Linked DNA regions of Homo sapiens: region 2 is linked to region 1. A link means that fine-mapping ties the variant in region 1 to the expression of a gene that starts in the linked region. Tissue or cell type: skeletal muscle. Region 1 holds a variant in brackets; the other region holds the start of a gene. All regions are shown on one strand. Distances are from middle to middle.

Region 1 (6,128 bases):
TGGAAGAAGAAGTGTCTTGGGCTATACATAAAGTAAAACACTAATGATAGCTAATGAGCTATAAATATCACAAAAAATATCTCATAATGTTTTAAGAAAGTTTACAAATTTGTGCTGGGCCACATTCAAAGGCTGTAGGTTGGACAAGATTGTTCTAAAGGATAATCTCAGTATTTAATGAGCCCCATTAACTCTGCGAAAAGAACAGTGTGGGGTTTGAGACAGGTTCTTTCTACTCTGCCCAGGCTAGTCTTGAAGCCCTGGGCTCAAGAGATCCTCCCACGTCAGCCTCTCAAGTAGCTAGGATTACAGGCACATGCCACCCTGTTCTGGTGAACAGAACAATTTAACATAGCAATACATCCTCTAAAAGTCAGTGTACTCTCTAATTTTTAATATTTGGCAAAAACGAAAAAAGCCCTCTTCAGAAACAAAATGGAATGTTTTTTGAAGCCATTCAAATGCTGCTACATTCCATTCTTGCTAAAAAACATATTTAATTAGCACATTTGAGACTCACGCTCTGCACAGCTGCACAACATTCCAGAGATAGGCCAGCTACCGATACACTCTTTACATGAAATACCACTGACTTTAAAAGTTGAGGAGACTGAGAAGCAGTTCTCAAGTATGACTCACTAAAGATAGGTTTATTTCACGTGAACAAAGTTTCCTTTAACAAGAGTGTAGTCCAGTGAAAATACATACTATAATTAAGAATAAAAAATGCATGTACACATGTACCAATAAAATATTTCTTCACAGCCGGAAAAAATATATATAAAAAATTCAAATGACAGACAAGAATAGTCTCCCTTTGAAACAAGACGATACATCAGCCTTCTCTCTAATTAAACTTTTACCTTTTATGAATTAAGCAAGATTTCTAGAACTAGGATGAAACCTATGTCAGAAACACACACTTCGAAGGCAAAATAGGCCTTTCAAAATAAGAAATCATCCTGATTATCAGGGAAACTCGGGATTTCCTTTAGCCCTGGGTGTTGATTTAAAAACAAGCAAACAGACAAAAACCTACCTTTGAAACAGAGAATGAAAGACAGGATGTGTGCTGGTTTCTTTCCTTCCGAAATGGCAGGCAGATCTCTTTGCTCCAGGCTAGAGGCACTTCCCCAACTCCACCCCAGGAGATAAATTGGGTATTTAGGGACAACTGGCAGCACAGACTTGTCAATCTTGCTGTGAGAAGGACCAGGCCCCTCTCAGAGAAGTCACCTGACTGATATCTCTGACCACAACTCATCTCCTGAAATAGTGACAGGTATTCTCATCTGCTCAGAGGACTGGCTAAGGCCACATTCCAGCCCCCTACCCTCCTCTAACCTAGGCCGCTGGGACCACTCTGGGCACTGCCTGGTCTTGTTGCCATCCCAAGTGTCAAGACCTAACATTTGCAGCTGCCTCAAGATCAAGTTGAGACTCCTACACCAGGCTTCAGGCAGCTCAGGCACAGTAACCATCAAGCATTTCCCTTGATGGGCTTTGGCCACCTGCAAACAAAATGATTCCCATCAGGTTAGGAGTTTCAGAAGAATCCCTTAGTTGGAGAAAGTCCACCCAGCCCAGCTCAGATTTTTCCCTCTTAACTGTGAAAAGGGCCAACACTGACCTTTAGTGTTTAAACCCCAGAAGAAGGCCATTTGTCACTTTTCCTTGGGGCCCATTACCCAAATGAGACTAACAGCAACCCCCAAGTTTCTAAAGGAAATTGCTGGAAAGAGCTTTTTTTATCTTCCAATGAAATATTTCTCCCCTCTTCCCACTCCCTCTTTTCCTTCAGCAGATACGGAAGCCGTTTTGGCACCTTCCTCAGAAAGAAGCCGAATACTAGAGTTAAAGGCAACAAAGGCCAGCAAGTCACCTCCATCCATCTGATGTCCTAAAGGCTTAAAGAACTGGCTTGCATAATCAAATAGAAATAACGCTTTTTCTTCTTGAAACAGATCCTAAATCCCAAGATAGAATTGTAAAGAATCCAGCTAATACAAAGACCCCAAGAAAGCTGAGCTCTAGTATATGCTTTCATCAGTTACAACCAAACCCAGCCCAGTAAAATTTATTACACTTAAAACCAAGATTATAATAACCACATCCATTCCACTGCGACACATTATGGGATAGGTATTTCAAAGACTCTGAAATCAGAACACAAAAGTAAAATCAGATGTTGTCCGAAGCATATGGAGATGTCTCTCAGGGGAATT[A/G]ATGCAACTGTGATGGGAATTCCCTTCAGAACAAAACAGAAAGCACATTATCTAATGAGAATTTAATTTCTGGTATTTTTCCATTGTAAAAAGACATTATTCATAAAAGAGAAACAGCTATAATAAACAAATTTTTGAATTCTTTCTTCCTTTCCATTTTTCTTTAACATCCCACCCCTAAAACAGCTCAGGGCAACAGATAGTGTTCATGCTACAGCTTTAACTATAGACCAGTCATTAGATTTTATGTTTTGCCATGCAACATGCATAAGCTGCAAGAGTGCTGAACATCATCATGTCATTATAGAGACTGTCAAAACTCTACATCTTCAGTTTAAGATTGGAGGATTGGCCCTTAATATGTATGTGTGAGATGAAGAAACATGCACAGAAAAAAAAGGCTTAAAAGAGAAACACTAAAATAAATAAATAAATATATATACACACATATTTTTTTATTTTTTTATTTTTTATTTTTTTATTTTATTTTTTTTGAGACTGAGTCTCACTCTGTCACCCAGGCTGGAGCGCAATGGTGCGGTCTCAGCTCACTGCAACCTCCACCTCCTGGGTTCAAGTGATTCTCCTGCCTCAGCCTCCCAAGTAGCTGGGACTAGAGAAGCCCACCACCACACCCAGCCAATTTTTGCATTTTTAGTAGAGACAAAGTTTCACTATGTTGGCCAGGCTCGTCTCAAACTCCTGACCTCATGATCTGCCCGCCTCGGCCTCCCAAAGTGCTGGCATTAGAGGCGTGAGCCACCGCACCTGGCCGAGAAACACTAAAATATTAACTGTATGTTTCCGGGGTCACATAGTATCTAGTGATTTTAATTTTCTTCTTTGTATTCATCTTTAGTTTCCATATGATCTAAAACATCTATTATTTCAGTAATAAAAAGATATCTTAAAAATACTTTTGTATTTTGTTATGATGATTTTATACTAACTTATGCCTTTATGATGGTATATAGTCTTCATAAGCCATTCAAAAAACCACATATACTATGTGTATTAGCAGAAATTTAAAAAAAAAAATCAGGGATTCTAAGGTGGTAAAAATACAAAGACTATTTTAATTTTTAAAACTATTGTAATCACTATAAAAACACTCCTGGCCAGGCGCGGTGGCTCACGCCTGTAATCCCAGAATTTTGGGAGGCCAAGGAGGGTGGATCACTTGAGGTCAGGAGTTCGAGACCAGTCTGGCCAACATGGTGAAACCCGTCTCTACTAAAAATACAAAAATTAGCTGGGCATGGTGGCAGGCGCCAGCTACTCGGGAGGCTGAGGCAGGAGAATCGCTTGAACCTGGGAGGCGGAGGTTGCAGTGAGCCGAGATCGCGCCATCGCACTCCAGCCTGGGGGATAAGAGCAAGACTTTGTCTCCAACAACAGCAACAACAAAGTACTCCTATGTTTACAGGTTTCAAAATGCCGTGGAAAATGTTTAAACATCACAGATCAAAATAAATAACATTGTTTTAAGGAAGAATCTAAGTTTTCCTTCCCATTCAAGTAAATAAGATAAAGAGAAAAAAGCCCCCCCACCCCCAAAAAAATCCCCTATCCCTATCCCAGCCCAAGACTTTACAGCTGGTGAAGAACATTCCAGAAAAATGTACAGCCCTTCAACATTTATATTTGGCCTTGAGGCAAACACACTAGAACAAAATGTATCCCTGAAACAGCCACCCAAGAGTACTGTAGGGAAACGAAACTTCACCGAGAGCCAAAGGCAGTGGCCATTAGTGGCTGATTCCTCCTGGACAATGTTTCTGTCAGGCGCTCTCTCGGCCAGTTCTTAGAGCTTTTCCCACACTCTGCATAAGTAATGAACTGCCAAGGCTGTAACAAAAATGAACATTTAAACAAGGAATGAAAAGATCTTTCAAAAATTTCAGTGTTCTTTATATCTTCATTATTAATACTGCTTTTCCGTAAGTTTGGTAGAAAAAAATTGAACAGCAGAAAGTATATTTAGCTGGTAAATTATTTGATTAGTTTGTATCCAGCTAAAATGAGGTTTGGTCAGAAGTGTTAGGATATTTTTGATAAAGAACAAGAATTTGTTATTTCCTAAAACTTAAAAAATATGGAGAAAAAAATATACAGAGATGAAATCTTCTGCAATTCCATTACCCAAGATAACCAATGTTAATAGGCTCATGAACTTTCTAAGAATAAACATACTTTTTTTTTTTTTTTTTTTTTTTTTTTTTTTTTTTTTTTTTTTTTTGAGACGGAGTCTCGCTCTGTCGCCCAGGCTGGAGTGCAGTGGCGCGATCTCGGCTCACTGCAAGCTTCGCCTCCCGGGTTCACGCCATTCTCCTGCCTCAGCCTCCCGAGTAGCTGGGACTACAGGCGCCCGCTACCACGCCCGGCTAATTTTTTGTATTTTTAGTAGAGACGGGGTTTCACCGTGTTAGCCAGGATGGTCTCGAAGAATAAACATACTTAATTACACAAATTACACTTTGAAAATACATACCTCAAAGGAATAAATTCTGTTGTACTTATATATCATCCTAAATTTCATACTAATTGATCTATTGGGTAAAAATCTATAGTTATGTTCTAATACATATTTTACTGCCTAACTAGTGGCTTCAAATTTGTATATTAAAAATCAGAACTAACAGGGCATTCTCGATTCTAGAGCAGAGATATTAAAATGGTTCTAAAAATCACTCAGATGTTTACTGTCACAGTTGAGAGTTTCTTAAGAATGGACGTATGACTCCTATAAACAAGGGTCAGTTTTAAAGCAATCTTGATAACATCTTATTTTTATATGTCAAAGCACAATTAATCCTGAAAGCTTCTTCAAACAACCACTCAGTTAAAGCTGATGGCAGAAAAAATACAAAATTAATGGAAATTCATTAATTTTTATAAGCTACATTTCACAAAGTACCAACACACTTAGAGACTTGGACCATAAAATAGAAAGTACTATTCCCTCCCAAACATTTCCTCCACTGGCTAAGGACAACTTGACTCATTCATGGGACTCCTTTTCAAAATACTGTCTCTATAAAATTCCCCATTTAAAATGTTTTAAAATATGTGCCTCCCTTCGTGGTAGAGATTACTCAATCAAACACACACCTCTCTCTCCCATGTGTGAGATATATATATATATATATATATATATATATGAGATAAACATGATATGTATGCATCATATATGTATATATACAAAAATATAACATTGCACAGGAATTTCTTTTCATACAAAAAACGAAGAATATTAAAATTAGTTCCTCTCAATCTTAGCCTACAATATTCCCAGATGCTGAGATACCATTCACTGAAAGTAAATCTAAATCTGAAGTGATTTTTATTTTAAAATGTTCACTTGGAATTTTACCTTCATTTCTGACCAATTCCACTGAAACCTGATGGTCTAATGGTTACAAACTAGCTCCAGTAGCAGTGTTTAGGTTTCCACGAGTGAGAACATGCACGTCATGGAATTCCACTGCTCTGCACTCAAGTGTGGAGACTGGAAATACCAAAGAACCCTGGTCCTCTGCTCTTTTCAAGCTGCCTAGGTTAGTGTAGAGAATTAATACATTTGAATACACTAATTTATCTCACACCTATACCCTTAAGATGCTAACTTACACACTGTATCATTGCTCTTAGAAAACTGCAAAGAAGGACAGATATAACAATCGCTGGATTTAAAACTATTTCTTAATAATGATCTACAATTGGACAGATTTACTTTTTTCTTTCCTTTTTAAAAATTAGAATTTTTAAAGTGTTGATTGCTTTTTTGATTATTAAAAAATGGTGCCCAAGGCTGGGCACGGTGGCTCACATTTGTAATCCCAACACTTTGGGAGGCCAAGGCAGGCAGATCACTTGAGTTCAGGAGTTGAAGACCAGCCTGGG
Region 2 (6,128 bases), 210 kb before region 1:
TTCTCTGCCCTTGGCCAAGCTATAGGCTTAATAACAAATGTCCTGCCCTCATCAGAGGAGACCTGAGATGGTCCAGTACCTTCCATAACTGGGCAGGTATGTCTATTGTATGCTCAGCTTCAGATATAAGCACAAAGGTACCTCCCACAACCTAAACTTCACCAGTAATAAAGTTGATATTTTGGCCTTCATCCACATACCTCTTATTTCTCAGTTGGTTCAGAACATGAGAGCAAATGATAACAATACAATGCTCCAAAAATAAAATGAAAACATTATAAAAAGGCTCCAGGTGTGAATACAAACCCTATTCTGTTACAAATACTCAGGGAGAAATGAAAGTTTAAAGATTATATCTACTTGCACAGTAAGGTATAAGACAGCAAAGTCCAAATGAATTACATTTTGAATGGTCAATGATAAGGAACTTATCAAGAGCTGCATCACTCAGTGGACTTTTCACAAGATTCTCTTTCACAATAGTAACCATCGCAATCTTCAGAATCAAAAGCTCTGTCCACCCAGTTTACAAACTCTACCAAACATACGCCCCGCTACCACCGATCCCATCCCATCCCCCCTGGCACCAGCACCTACATCTGAATGCAGATATTTATGCTGGACTGAATTCTATGTAAACAAAATAAAACTTTGAAAAACAACAGCTAAAAACCCTTGGAGTTAAAAAATGGCAATAATATAATGTGTGGTGCTAGTGGAAAAAAAATAGAAAAACGTTAAGAAACTAGAAATGGGACCCAAATACAGAAGAGGATGATAGAGTGAATTAGTGAAATCAACAAGGACTGATTCAAATACAAATTTACTTTAGCTGTTTATTCATTCAATACATGCCTATTGAGTGCCTGCTGTGGATTAGGTTTGGGTACTCTGTGCGCTAGGTACAGGGGGTTCAATGGGAACAAAATAGACATGAGTTTACCTTGTATTTTTGTTAAGAGACAAAATAATGCTAACTGTACCAATCCTGGTGTTTAGTAAATATTAGATCCTCAATGAAAATCAGTTATTAATATTTTAATATAGGAAAACAGGGCCAGGCGCAGTGGCTCATGGCTGTAATCCCAGCACTTTGGGAGGCCGAGGCAGGTGGATCACCTGAGGTCAGGAGTTCGAGACCAGCCTGGCCAAAATGGTGAAACCCCATCTCTACTAAAAATACAAAAATTAGTTGGGTGTGGTGGTGTGCACCTATAGTCGCAGTTACTCAGGAGGCTGAGACAGAAGAATCGTTTGAACTTGGGAGGCGGAGCTTGCAGTGAGCTGAGATCATGCCATTGCACTCCAACCTGGGCGACAGAGCGAGACTCCATCTCAAAAAAAAAAAAAAAAAAAAGGAAAAGAGGTCAAATGGAGATTGTTTACTAAATAGTATTAGGTAAATAGTATTAGGATAACCGGCTAGAGATCAGGGAAAACAATTGGTAGAGGTACCCCTTATAAAAGACATCAAAACAAATTTCAGAAGAATTTATTTAAATTTAAACATGGTATTAAAAAGCACAAAATAAATGTGTTATCAGATCTGTGAAAGAAGATTCATGTCCTCAGTTTTGAAGAAATAAAACCACAAGGAAATGAACAGACCTTAATACTGAAACATAAATTTCATACAAAAACAAAACAGCAGACTGAGGGAAATATTTCATTTGGTGTAATTGATAAAAGGTAAAAATCTGGAGAAAACATTTCAATTTATAAGCAAATCATAGTGATGCCAATAAATAAGCAGACTAAGGATGTTGCAGTGGATAGCTTCATTGTTTTTTTGTTTTTGGCAACTGTGGTAGGCAGAATAATGGTCTCCCAAAGATGTCCACATCCTAATCCACAGAAACTACAAATATGTTTAACATTACATGGCAAAGGGGGATTAAAGTTGCTAATCAGCTGACCTTAAAATAGGGATTGTATTAGTCTGCTTTCACACTGCTATAAAGATGCTACTCGAGACTGGGTTATTTATAAAGGAAAGAGGTTTAATTGACTTACAGTTCTGCATGGCTGGTGAGGCCTCAGGAAACTTACAGTCATGGTGGAAGGGGAAGCAGGCACATTTTTCACAAGTCAGCAGGAGAGTGGAGCAAGGAGGAACTTCCAAACACTTACAAAACCATCAGATTTCCTGAGAACTCAATGACCACAGCATGGGAGAAACCGCCCCCATGGTCCAACGGTCTCCCTCCCTCGACCTGTGCGGATTACAAATCAAAACGAGATTTGAGTGGGGACACAGAGGCAAACCATATCAGGGAGAGTATCCTGGATTACACAGGTGGGCCCAATATAATCACAAGGGTCCTTGAAAGTAGATGAAGGAGGCAGAGGATGGCAACAGTGATGCAGTGTGAGAAAGACTTGATCACTATTGCTGGCTTTGAATATGGGGAAGGGGTCATGAGCCAAGGAATGTGGGCAGCTTCTAAATGTTGCAAACAGCAAGGAATTGAAATTTCCTCTAGAGCATCCCAAAAGGAAAAGAGCCCTGCCAACACCTTGATTTTAATGCAGTGAGTTTTTGTGTCAGACTTCTTACTTATGGAAGAACTGTAAGATAATAAATTTATGTTGTTTGAAGCCACTAAGTTTGTGGTAATTTGGTATAGCAGCAAAGGGAAATTCACACAGCCAGCTACTTTTTAAACGCTGTTCCTGTGTTTGCAGAATCTGTAACCTCAAGGGGCAGAACCTTCCTTCTGCAGAATATGAGGTCTTTTCCCAGCTGCACTTGCAGCAAGGGCACAGATCCATGGCCAGTATCTGTCAATTGTACACCTGCATGATTTTGAATTAGAGGCTGGTCATGTGCAGAGGGGAGCCTGGCAGAATCTGTTCTGTGAGGGCAGTGGCAGGGACAGCTGTCACTGCAGCAGCGTGTTGCTGTCAAAGACAGCAATTCCCACAGCAGGGTTTGCGCACAGTATGGTGTCATGGTGGGCACCTGGCAGTGTCAGAGTCCAGTGACGAGTTCCAGGAGCCTGCCCTAGGCTGGACTTTGGACATTTTTCCTGGCTGTATAAGCCCTAAGCCTGGTGCCCTTGTCCTCCTGGAGATTCTGGGAGCCTTAATAAGTTCCTTTTCTGCTAAATTAGCCAGAGTTGGTTTTTGTGGCTTGTGATTCAGAACCCTCAGTAAATCAGATATGAATGAACAATTCAATTCACTCAAAAAGAAAGTGGTGACACATCCCTGTAGTCCCAGCTCTCAGGAGGATCGATTGAGCCTGGGAGGTCGAGGCTGCAGTGAGCCGTGATCATGCCACTATACCCCAGGTTGGGTGACAGATAAGACCCCATCTCAACAAAAAGGAAAAAAAAAAGCAAGAAGAAAGAAGAAAAAGAAAGAAAGGAAGGAAGGAAGGAAGAAAGGAAGGAAGGAAAGAAAGAAAGAAAGAAAGAAAGAAAGAAAGAAAGAAAGAAAGAAAGAAAGAAAGAAAGAGAAAAAAGAAAGATGACAAAAACAGGAGAAAAAGTTGACCCTAGCTAGCAGTCAAAGAAACTCACAGCTTGAGGTGCCATATGATAGTTACTAAAAACAAAAACAATTGTTTCTGTAGCACAACAACGAGAACAGTTCCTCAGATAATGTCATTTCATTCAACTTTTTTTTTTTTTTTTTAATGATGAGAAAAAAATTGATTCTCTGCCAGGGCCACTGTCTGTGTGGTTTGCATGCTCTCCCCACGTCCACAGGGGTTTTGCTCTGGATGCTCTGGTTTTCTCCCACCCCTCAAAGAGGTGCATGTTCAGTTCACCGGCATGTCTACATGGTCCTGGTGTGAGTGTGGGGTGTGTGTGAGTGTGCCCTGCGATGTGACAGTGTCCTGTTCAGGGCTGGTTCTTACTTTAAGCCCTGAGCTGCTGGAATGAGCTACAGCAACCGGAGACTGGAGACTCCGGCAACCTAGAGAACTGTTATTATTGAGTAAGTTATCTTACTTGCTTTTATTTATCTTTCTTAAATGTATGTATAGCTCATATTTATTTCAGTGGTTAATATCAGAAGTGTTTTTTTTTTTTGAGACGGAGTCTCACTCTGTTGCCCAGGCTGGAGTGCAGTGGTGCAATCTTGGCTCACTGCAACCTCTGCCTCCCAGGTTCTAGTGTTTCTCCTGCTTCAGCCTCCTGAGTAGCTGGGACTACAGGCATGCGCCACCATGCCCGGCTAATTTTTGTATTTTTAGTAGAGACGGGGTTTCACCATGTTGGTCAGGCTGGTCTTGAACTCCTGACCTTATGATCCACTCGCCTCGGCCTCCCAAAGTGCTGGGATAACAGTCATGAGCCACCGCGCCCGGCCTTTGGTTTTTATTTAGAATTTTGATGTGTTTGTGACTAGAAATAAACCATAGGAATATTAATTTGCTTGTGGTAAAATTGGTGTTACTTACTTTCAGATTGCAAGAACATATTGACAACCTTAAGTGAGGACTGACTGTACCTTTGTTTATAGCTAGTAACTAAATGGATACACTGTTTGGAAAGTAATTTGGAAAGGAGTAATAGGAATATTTAGCAAAAATCTGTAAACGTGTCCTTAGCTTCTGACCTGGCAATTGCCAAGAAGCTTGGGAGGGTGTTTGGTAAGATAAAAATTATTTGTGTGCTTGTGTTTGAAAATTATTGATGTGGGCTTACAGTGTGTTAAACTAGGGGTGATAAAATTTGCATTAGGACCCCAGAAGCTTTTAGAGAGCAAAGAGATTAGAACCTATATTCAGTTTCCTGAAATGTAAAGTGACTGAAGCTGTCAGAGCGGCTGAGATCAAGGCTCTCTCTGAGGCTGGGCAGGAGAATGACTCCCCTGGGAGAACATTTCCACAAGGGGAAAGTGGTTAGTAGATGCGTACCCTGCACCAAGGCACGTGATTAAAGGGGAATATGGTCTGTGCAGTAGCCATACCAGGGGGCAGTTTATGCCCCCAGAAAACTGCTCTCAAAAAGAACCAAGAGCTGTAATTTTGGGAACACAAGCCTCTTTGGTGGAGAATGGTGTTATTGCTAAATGCTCAGCATCTGGGGAGCATTTTAATGCCTGATGCTGCATCAACTTGTGGAAAACTACCAATAGTCCTTGAAATAAGCATCACAAAGTCTTGTAGAAACACAGCAAAATGTTTATGATGCATATGTAAGTAAAAATTGTATGCAGAATAGGTACTTGTGATGTTTAACTATGTAGGATTTGAGGCATGTGGGCCAGTGGGTTGTTAGAGTTAAAAAAAAAAGGAAGAATGCTTTTTTTTTTTTTGAGACAGAGTCTCTCTCTGTTGCCCAGGCAGGAGTACATGGGCATGATCTCAGCTCACTGCAACCTCCACCTCCCAAGTTCAAGTGATTCTCGTGCCTCAGCCACCCAAGTAGCTGGTATTACAGGCGTGCACCACCAGGCCTAGCTAATTTTTTTTTTAAGTAGAGATGGTGTTGTGCCATTTTGGCCAGGCTGGTCTTGAACTGCTGACCTCAAGTGGTCTGTCCGCCTTGGCCTCCCAAACTGTTGGGATTACAGGTGTGAGCTACCACACCTGGCCCAAGAATGCTTTTATCATACTGTCTTTCCTGTTCAAAATATTGCATCTCTTACCAACATGTTTCACTAAAAAAACATGAGGTCACCAAATGCCTATTTAAGGAACTGAATTTTTATTTTTAAAAATAAAGTCCCCCAAGTGATGCTACTCATCTGTTTCTTTGGGGAATCCCAGATGCCTGAGTTAATGGTCAGAACATCATTTGGCTGGGAAACAATCCATATAGGTGCAACTGTCCCTGGGTGCGTGGCCCCGTGATTGGGTGCAGCTCCCTCTCAGTCAGTTCTCACTGTCTTATCAAGACTCCATCTCTGAAATCTTGAAATGCATCTTGAAATGCAAGGATCCTTAATCCATTTATTCCTTTGACAAACAGAAAATGAGCCCTTCTGTCTGTTCACGCTTCCCCTCTTTCCTCTTCTGAGAAATGGAGGTCTAATTGCTGGCATGGGAAAGAGCCTTGTTTTAACCGTCAGCTCCGCCCTAGTGGATGGAAGACAGGGTTAGCATGCCCTGTTTTTCATACAGCACCTGGGCTTGTAAAATGGAACTAAAGAAGGAAATGATGACCAGGCAT

Direction of the effects. Positions count from the first base shown, and alleles are read on the strand shown. Sizes are in standard deviations (SD) of each study's normalised expression.
For the expression in skeletal muscle of the gene that starts at base 3,724 in region 2, allele A in region 1 goes with a lower level than allele G (small effect, 0.31 SD a copy in GTEx).

Evidence for each region. PIP is the estimated chance that this variant, and not a neighbour inherited with it, causes the effect.
Region 2: it holds the start of SPTBN1-AS2, and the variant in region 1 is fine-mapped to the expression of SPTBN1-AS2 in skeletal muscle (GTEx, PIP 0.94).

The regions. Positions count from the first base shown.
Region 1 is chr2:54,464,898-54,471,025 of GRCh38, reverse strand. The region is part of intron 1 of SPTBN1 (spectrin beta, non-erythrocytic 1); the gene reads right to left. Among named protein-coding and RNA genes, the nearest start is that of SPTBN1, 12 kb to the right of the region's middle. The variant A/G (reference allele first, on the strand shown) is at 2,226.
Region 2 is chr2:54,677,641-54,683,768 of GRCh38, reverse strand. SPTBN1-AS2 (SPTBN1 antisense RNA 2) reads left to right here and starts at 3,724. Exons shown (of 3, transcript NR_186176.1): 1 at 3,724-3,945. LOC105374653 (a long non-coding RNA gene) reads right to left here. Exons shown (of 3, transcript XR_940104.2): 2 at 2,014-2,213.